Homo sapiens: one gene and its partner. The protein of the gene in region 2 interacts with the protein of the main gene of each other region in a pairwise test. Each region holds a gene or a part of one and is shown on either strand. Other genes may lie near its edges.

Evidence for each region.
Region 1: the proteins of EBF3 (region 2) and ATPAF2 interact in binary tests that used the Homo sapiens proteins (3 or more experiments, as listed by UniProt).

Annotation. Positions count from the first base shown.
Region 1 is NC_000017.11:18,025,274-18,029,184, reverse strand, and holds part of ATPAF2 (ATP synthase mitochondrial F1 complex assembly factor 2), read left to right. Parts: intron 1-525; coding exon 526-570; intron 571-807; coding exon 808-953; intron 954-2,768; coding exon 2,769-2,866; intron 2,867-3,911. UniProt on the Homo sapiens protein: Plays a role in the assembly of the F1 component of the mitochondrial ATP synthase (ATPase).
Region 2 is NC_000010.11:129,957,547-129,961,457, forward strand, and holds part of EBF3 (transcription factor COE3), read right to left. Parts: intron 1,462-3,911; coding exon 1,388-1,461; intron 1-1,387. UniProt on the Homo sapiens protein: Transcriptional activator. Recognizes variations of the palindromic sequence 5'-ATTCCCNNGGGAATT-3'.

The DNA of each region.
Region 1 (3,911 bases), on a different chromosome or scaffold from region 2:
TAATTAGGTTAATTAATTGGAGAGAGGGGATGGGAAATGCCCTTGGGAGCTCTGTATCCTGCCGATGTATCACACACGCACACCCTGCGCACGCACACTGGCTTTCCACTCACTCCTTAGAGGCATCAGAGTCTTGCCTGAAATGGGTCTCTAGCTTTGTCCCACTCAGACACCGACTTTAGGTTTGAACTCGTTGTGCTGGCATGAGGTGGCACTGGTGGTGGGGAGGGTGGGAGAGCATGCCGAGATGCTCCTGATCAGACTTGTCCCCAGGCTGCGGGGCTGGCAGAGGTATGACCAGCATGTTCTGTTCCTCCCTTCTCCCTGGAGATCAGATGTTCCCTTCCCCCAGCTTTAATCAGAAGCGGTTGATTATACCGTGTTGAGTAGGGCAGACCTTGAATGGGGATATGAAAATCAAGCCAATCAATCAACATTAGCAGTAATGATACAAGCTGGTCCTGTCGCTTCCTGAGTTGTCTCAACGTTATTTTAAACTGCCTCTTTGAAAAATCTTTCTTACAGAAAGGAAGAGGTTTTATCAGAATGTCAGCATCACACAGGGTGAAGGTGAGTGTCTGAAATTTTGACTGCCTCTTTTTTTTTTTTTTTTTGTGAATGGTTGGGAACATTTTTCATCTTCAGCTGGTTTCATGGTGCGATTATCCTTCCTGCTTTTTGTGAGATATATTTCTGTAAGGGACTCAGAGTTGGCTTTGTCTGCACCAATTCAAGTGGCTAAATATAGGAATGGTCACTTGATTCCACTTAACAAATCCCTGAGAGTTTTTCATTTGATCTTTCAAGGTGGCTTTGAGATAAACCTGGACCACAGGAAGCTGAAAACTCCCCAAGCCAAGCTCTTTACCGTCCCCAGCGAGGCCCTGGCCATTGCAGTGGCTACTGAGTGGGATTCCCAGCAGGATACCATCAAGTACTACACCATGCACCTGGTAACAAGTTCACAGTGTGAACCTGGACCCTGAGACCCACCCAGGGCTTCGTAGGGTAGACCCTTTACCAAATTCCGACAAGGCCCTGGGGGCTGGTCCTTTGCCTGTCTGGCCCCCAGGGATTCACCTCCTCTCAAGTCACTAACGTGCTAAACTCTTTCCTTGTCTGGCCCGGCTACTTGCAGCTCTCTCTCCTAGGAACACTGTGCTGGATGGCTGGTTTCTCCTTTGGTTTCAGGACAGATGTCACCTTCATTGACTGCCCAGCTCTCTTATTTTCTATGACAGCAGCTGGCCATTTGTTTTGTCAGCACTTAGGCAATTTATAATTGTTTTATGTTTGCACATTTATTGTCTGTCTCTTCCACTGCCTGGTAAGCAACAGAAGGGCAGGAGCCATGTCTGTTTTACTCATCAGTGTCTGGACAGCCACTAGCAGGTAATTTAGTTGGTACTCAGTAAATATTAGTTGAATATAAGATCCACTGGAGGCAGATGGGTGAGGTGAGGAAGACTCCCTATAGAACCAGCCCCCTCGTCCACACCAAAGTGGCTCGCCTAGGCACCAAGGCTGCCTGGGGAAGGAAGGGCCCAGCTACACTCTTAGGTCCAGCCTCTGCAGCTTCTAAACTGTAACCTTGGGCAGGTTGCTACCCCTTTCGCAGCCCCATATTCCCCACCGATTAAAGATGAGTGATAATAGTACCCACCTCACGGAGCTGTGGTCAGGATGAGATGAGATGATGCAAGAAAGCCCTTGGCATGGTCCCCAGCACTGACTGGGCACTCAGTCAATACAGGAGTCAGCTGCTATCATCCCAGCCGCTGCTGTGCTCAACCTTTGCAAACCCAGGTGGGCCTCCTCCCAACATCACAGCCTGCTGAGGTGGTTGGCCTGGTCCTTGACAACCTAGTGAAATTAGGGTGATTAGGGCTACAAACGAATAGGGTAACCTAAGCAGCCTATTATTGACAAGGTAAGTCTGGAAAAAAAAAGATCTTTTTTTTTTTTTTAAACAGTCTAACTCTGTTGCCCAGGCTGCAGTGCAATGGCATAATCTCGGCTCACTGCAACCTCTGCCTCCTGGGTTCAAGCGATTCTCCCGTCTCAGCCTCCCAAGCAGCTGGGATTACAGACGTCCACCACCATGCCAGGCTAATTTTTGTATTTTTAGTAGAGATGGGGTTTTACCATGTTGGCCAGGCTGGTCTTGAACTCCTGACCTCAGGTGATCTGCCCACCTCAGCCTCCCAAAGTGCTGAGATTACAGGCGTGAGCCACCACACTTGGCCGAAAAAAATAATCTTGATCCCGATTTGCATGGGCTATTTCCCTACTTTCTAAGGTGTAAGGGAGGCAGCTGGTAAAGGTTTCCAGTCAGATTTGAGCTCCATCACTAATACATGTCTTATTAACTGTATTTGACAATGTACTTAACCTGTCTGGGCCTCAGTTTTCACATCCCAGATGGACATAATAATAGTACCTACTCCAAAAGGTTGTTGTGAGGATTAAATTAAATACACTAGAGCCTGGTAATAAAAGGCATGTGACCATGGGGGAGGTTCACTAATCCTGGGGCTGCTGCAAGCTTCCCTCGAGTCCTGTGAGCGTCAACACAAAGCATTTGGCATGGAGCCTGGTTGTGGCACACTCTCAGTAGCTGTGCTGCTGCTCCGGTAATGCAGACGCCTCTGGTGGAGGGCTGTGCTGTGGTGCTGTCTGCTATGTGTCAGATGTGGTGTCCTCAGGAAAGCAGGGCTTTTGCCTGAGCCCCGCAGGCAGTGACAGGGTGGTTTTTGCCTTTGATTCAGACCACATTGTGCAACACATCATTGGACAACCCAACCCAGAGAAACAAGGATCAGCTGATCCGGGCAGCCGTGAAGTTTCTGGACACCGACACCATCTGGTAATGGACATTTAGATGGGCATTCCCCTTGGATTGAGGCTATTTTTCCTGATTTGCCCAGATGGTTATCAGTGGAAGAAGAAACCCTCTCCATTTATTGCAAGGACAAGGAAGGTGGCCCACTTGACTTTGGCACTTGGCTGCTCTGTAGCCCCTTAGGAGGAGGACTCCTCGGGCTACAATGGTGTCAGAACATGGCCACCCCTCTTCTCTAGCCCAGAAGCTGCTCCTTAGGCTGGGAGGGTGGTTATGCAGCTCTTGCAGGTGCCGTGACCACAGGCCCCTTAGGCCTAGGGGGGCCTGTGACCTTAAACTTCTGCCCACCGACACTTTCTCAGGTAAAGCATCCTTGGCACTATGGATGCTGATAACTAGGAGTGTCCTTCTCCAGTTCTGAATTCTCCTCTGTGTCTATGTTTCTTGGCTAATTGTTCAGTGATGCCAAAGGAAAGTTGAGAAACAATGGAAATGATTGAGCAGCACCGTGCCTGCTAGCCCAAGTGCTCTAGGATCCTGAGTCATCTCACGATGACACAGGAAGTCAGCACTGATGGCTGGAGGCGTGCTTTCGAAGGGGGTGACCCATAGCTAGTGGGAACGCCCACTCCATTTATATTAGGGTTCACTTGATTGCAGGGAGCAGAAACCCATTCAACCTAGCTCAGACAAAAAGGGGATTCTTGAAAACTATACAGGGATCCTGACAGGAAATGAAGGACAGTTGGGTCACCAGGAAAGGTAGCTGGAAGATCCAATGTCAGAGCTCCTCCCTGTGCCCTACTAGGGTGAGAGGAAGGTGAGGGAGGAAAGGCTGGTTGTCCATCTGCCCCTCCCAGCACCCCAGCTTTTCCTGCATAACTCATGACCTCTCTTCCCCACTTTGCTTACACAAGACAGTGGATTTCCATAGTGCCCACTTGGATTCCCATCCCATGAGGCCCTGCAGCTCAGCTCCTCTCAACTGGCTCATGTCTGTGTCTCTTGGTCAAACAAATGGCACAGCCTGACCTCTAGCTTGGTCCCATCAGGTCTGGCATCTGTGCCA
Region 2 (3,911 bases):
GGAGGGTAACCAGAGTACTATATAGATTGTGATGCTAAAATATGGAAAACATGTTGTCGGTGTTTGTCTTTGCAATGAACTGAGGAGAAGGGAAGGCAGGAGGCTTGGGAATAACTTTTCACAGCTTCGGCTTTTGTTTACCTCTAATTGTCAAGCTGTTATTTCTGGAAAAGATGCAAGATGCCACCTTCAACCAATATTTCTTTGGGGCATTTATTAATTATAACCACAAAAGCATGCATCCATCTATCACAAACTTCTATTGTTCCTTCTTTAAGCCTACCTTAACTCTGTTATTGAAACTTTAATTAAAGCAGAAATGAAACAAAAATGTTATGCTTCTTGCATTTTAAAAAAGCATACTTGTATAATGGTTACATGTCTAAATTAGCTAAATTAACACCATATGGTAGGCAAAGTATATAAAGCCTTTTAAAGCTGACAGCTAAAGTGATTAAAGAAAGTCTACAGTCTTCCACTTAGAGCTTAAATCACATCTGTGCGCTTTCTATGTTAATTGCAGTACATGCAGAAGTGGATAATAAAGAAATTCCACTTTATTGGTTGTAATTTATATTTATTACCTGATATGAGAAAAAGTCAGCTTTTGTATATTAGTGCTGTAACAATATGTCTGCTCAGAAATGGCATTTAGGCAACCGGCATCATAGCCAGGCGGAGTATGCCCCTCAGAGTATGCGGCCTGCTACTGTAGCCTGGAAGCCTGCAACGCTTTCCTTGCTATTCCTTGCAACTATATTTCACATGCCACACATACAAAGTCAATGATGCATTTTTATTTGCCATGTAGGGGTGAAACTCTTGTGGTAGTTAGAAAAAACAGGTGGGAAATTGCTCTTCTGACAGAGATCTCAAGTAACGGGCACGCTATCTAACAACGACACGAACGCTGCATCGCTGCTCTAGGGAAGAGGTTAACTGACAGAATCACAATCCAATTCTCACATACACGCGCGCTATAGTAAGTACAAAAGAGTTTCCTTTTTATCAATAACAGACAATTGTATATCTCAGGATGCGAGCGCCTGAGAAGGAAGTAGTAAAATGATTCCGAGTGATCCCTGACTCCTCCGGCACCGCGGACGGATGCATCACCCAGACCTGTTTTCATTTTTGACTACACTGCAACGACACGGCCCACATATTAATCCGCTCTGCTGAGCAGCGGGTCGCGTTGATCGTCAGCGCTGGGGGGAAGGAGCGCGGGCTCCTCCGCGGCCCGGCGCGCGGCCTCGGGCCGATTACATTTCAATCGATGCCCTTCCCGGAGCTGGGCGGGGTGGCGGCGCCTGGACGCGGCGTCCTTTGTAGACGCAGCTGGCGCCGAGGCAGCCCGCGCCCCCGCCGCCCGCCGCCCGCCGCTCACCTGCACATGATCTCGTGGGTCAGCAGCACACGGCACATCTCCGGGTTCTTGTCCTGGCCCTCGTAGACGATGGCCTGCGCGAGGGACAAGCAGAGGCTGGGGTTACGCGGCGCCCGCGGCTTTGGCGCCAAATCGCCCCGGGCGCTGCAGGCCTGGCTGGCAGCAGGTGCACCACGCTCGAGGGGAGGCGATGCGCCCCCCTCCCTCGGCCACCCTCCCGATGGGGTCACCCTCGGAGCTGGGCTAGGCCGCGATGGCTTCTCCCTCCCCTGCCTCCCAGCCTCCTCCCCCGGGCGCCCGCCAGGCCTGCGAGGGGCCTTCGGCTGCAGGGAAGGCGCCGACTGGGCTCGGGCCGCGGGGAGGGCAGGGCGAGGGAGGCCGGGGCCGGGGCGCAAGGAGCGAGAGCCCGCTGGCACCGACCCCGGAACCCGGGGCTCCCGGGCCCCTTCGGCATTCCGCGCCGCCGCCAGGCCGCGTCCTCAGGCCATTGTCTACAACGAGTTCCAATCTGCATGTTGGGAGAGGCCGATCAGAACGCCCCGAGGCTAAAGAAGCAGGGAAGGATGGTCGCGGCGCAGGAGCAGTTTGCCAAGGGCCGAGGGCCGCGCCCGCCCTGCCCTGCGCGCTCCCCCGGCTCTAGCAAGTCTGGCGCCCCGCGGCTTCCCGCGGCTTCCCGCGTTCCAAACCCAGGCGCCCGCGGGGAGCAGGCCGCCCTGGACCGGCCGCCGTCCCGAGCTCCCGGGGCCTCCCTGAGTGGTGGGCAGCGACCTGGCCTCTGCACGCTGCGGGCGGCCTGGGAGCCCAGGCGGGAGGCCCAGGAGCAGCAACCGCACGTGGGCCGCGGCGTCGCCAGCGCCCCGCAGGAGTGCCGGGGCCCCAGGGCGCCCGAGCCCGCGCGGCCACGTGCTCCTCGCCGGATGATATTTGGAAAGAAAGTGCTAATGGCCAATCTGGTGTTTATTTTGAAACTGCTAACAGTGATTTTTCTCGGGTAAAAAGGCAGTCTCTGCGCGCACGCTCGGGTGGGTTTTGAGCAGAGGCTCCGCCAGATGGTGCGAAGCCCTAGGTGCGCTCACGGCCGCGCTCAGCCCGGCTCCGCCGCTGGGAACCCGAGCTGGGGATCGGGAGCCGCCCGCCCGGGCTGGGCCTCCACCACTGGCCTCGCGAAAAAACAGAAAAGAAAAAAAAAAAAAGTCTACTGGGGGAGGGGCGGGAGGCTGGGGCCGGGAGCTCCAAGTTCCCTGCATAAAATTCCACGGAAGGGGGAGGGATGTCCTCTTCTCCGGTTCCCGCCCCCACCCCTGAAAATTATCTGGAAATTCCTTCCAACCTCCCCGGGCACTTCTGACACTTTCCTCTACTTCCAGGCGGACAAAGCCCTTTCTGGTGAAAGCCCGGGGCTGCCCTCCTGGGAAGAGGGAAGGTTCCCCGCGAACCCCGCTCACCCAGCCTCCTGCCTGGACCCGGCTCAGAACCACAGAAGTGATGGGTGTCACCGCAGGCCAACGAGTCGCCTGGCGCTGCAGGGCGCGTGGCCGCGGCGGGCACCAGCGCTTCTGAGAGAGTGGCTTGTCCTCCGATGGATCGCCGTATTTATATTTGATTTATTTTTTATTTTGTAGCACAAACAGAAATCCATAAACTGTCGGTTCAGCGCCATTGACTCTTTGATCAGTTACTGGGCTATTTCTTTCCTTTTTTTTTTTTTTTTTTTGCCCCTCCATGCCCGTCAGTGAGAGGAGATTAAATGCCTTTATTTTCAGCCCTGTTTATACTGCAAAGGTACAAGGCTAAATGAACAATAAAAGTGTACTTAAAACGAAGCCTCCTCCTCCTCTGTGCAACAACAGAGAAACTTAGGGCTGCCTACATAAACCTCTTAATTAGACTATAGCGATTTCCGAAAACATTTAGCCATTATATACAAAGGAAATAAAATCACCCTGTCAACCAGCAGCCGGAGTTCCAGAGGCTTCTCTGAATCGAGTGAAATAATTACAGAAGGGCACACCGCCTCTGTCTTTGTCAGAAAGACCTTAGTTTACCTGTCAGATCTGTTTTACTCTAAGAGAAAAGCACACTGGTTTACCACTGCAGGCATTAAAATCTAACACCCTTGCTACCTAGGTAAGGACAAACTTTTTAAAGGGGAAATAAAATGTGCAAACTAATTGCATGCAGAGAGTGGGAGGCATATGTGCTGGGCTGCAGGAAGCCCCAACGAGCTCTCCTTTACTTGGCTCACAATTCTTAAAGTTAGCATCAAAACCGAAGAAGCCACTTTCATTTCTAAGTGTGAAGTCCAGCTTGGAAGTATATTTTAAAACAATCTGTGCCGAGTGGATTTAATCTACAAACTGGACCTGCCCCCCTCCCCACCACAACACTCTATTTTAAGAAAATGGGGGCGGGGGGAAATCTTTAAAACAACCAAATCAACAACAACACACCACCCAGCACAAAACCAGCAGCCAGAGACTGCACAATGTCAAAAAGCAGTGACGCACTTTTCTCCACTTAATCA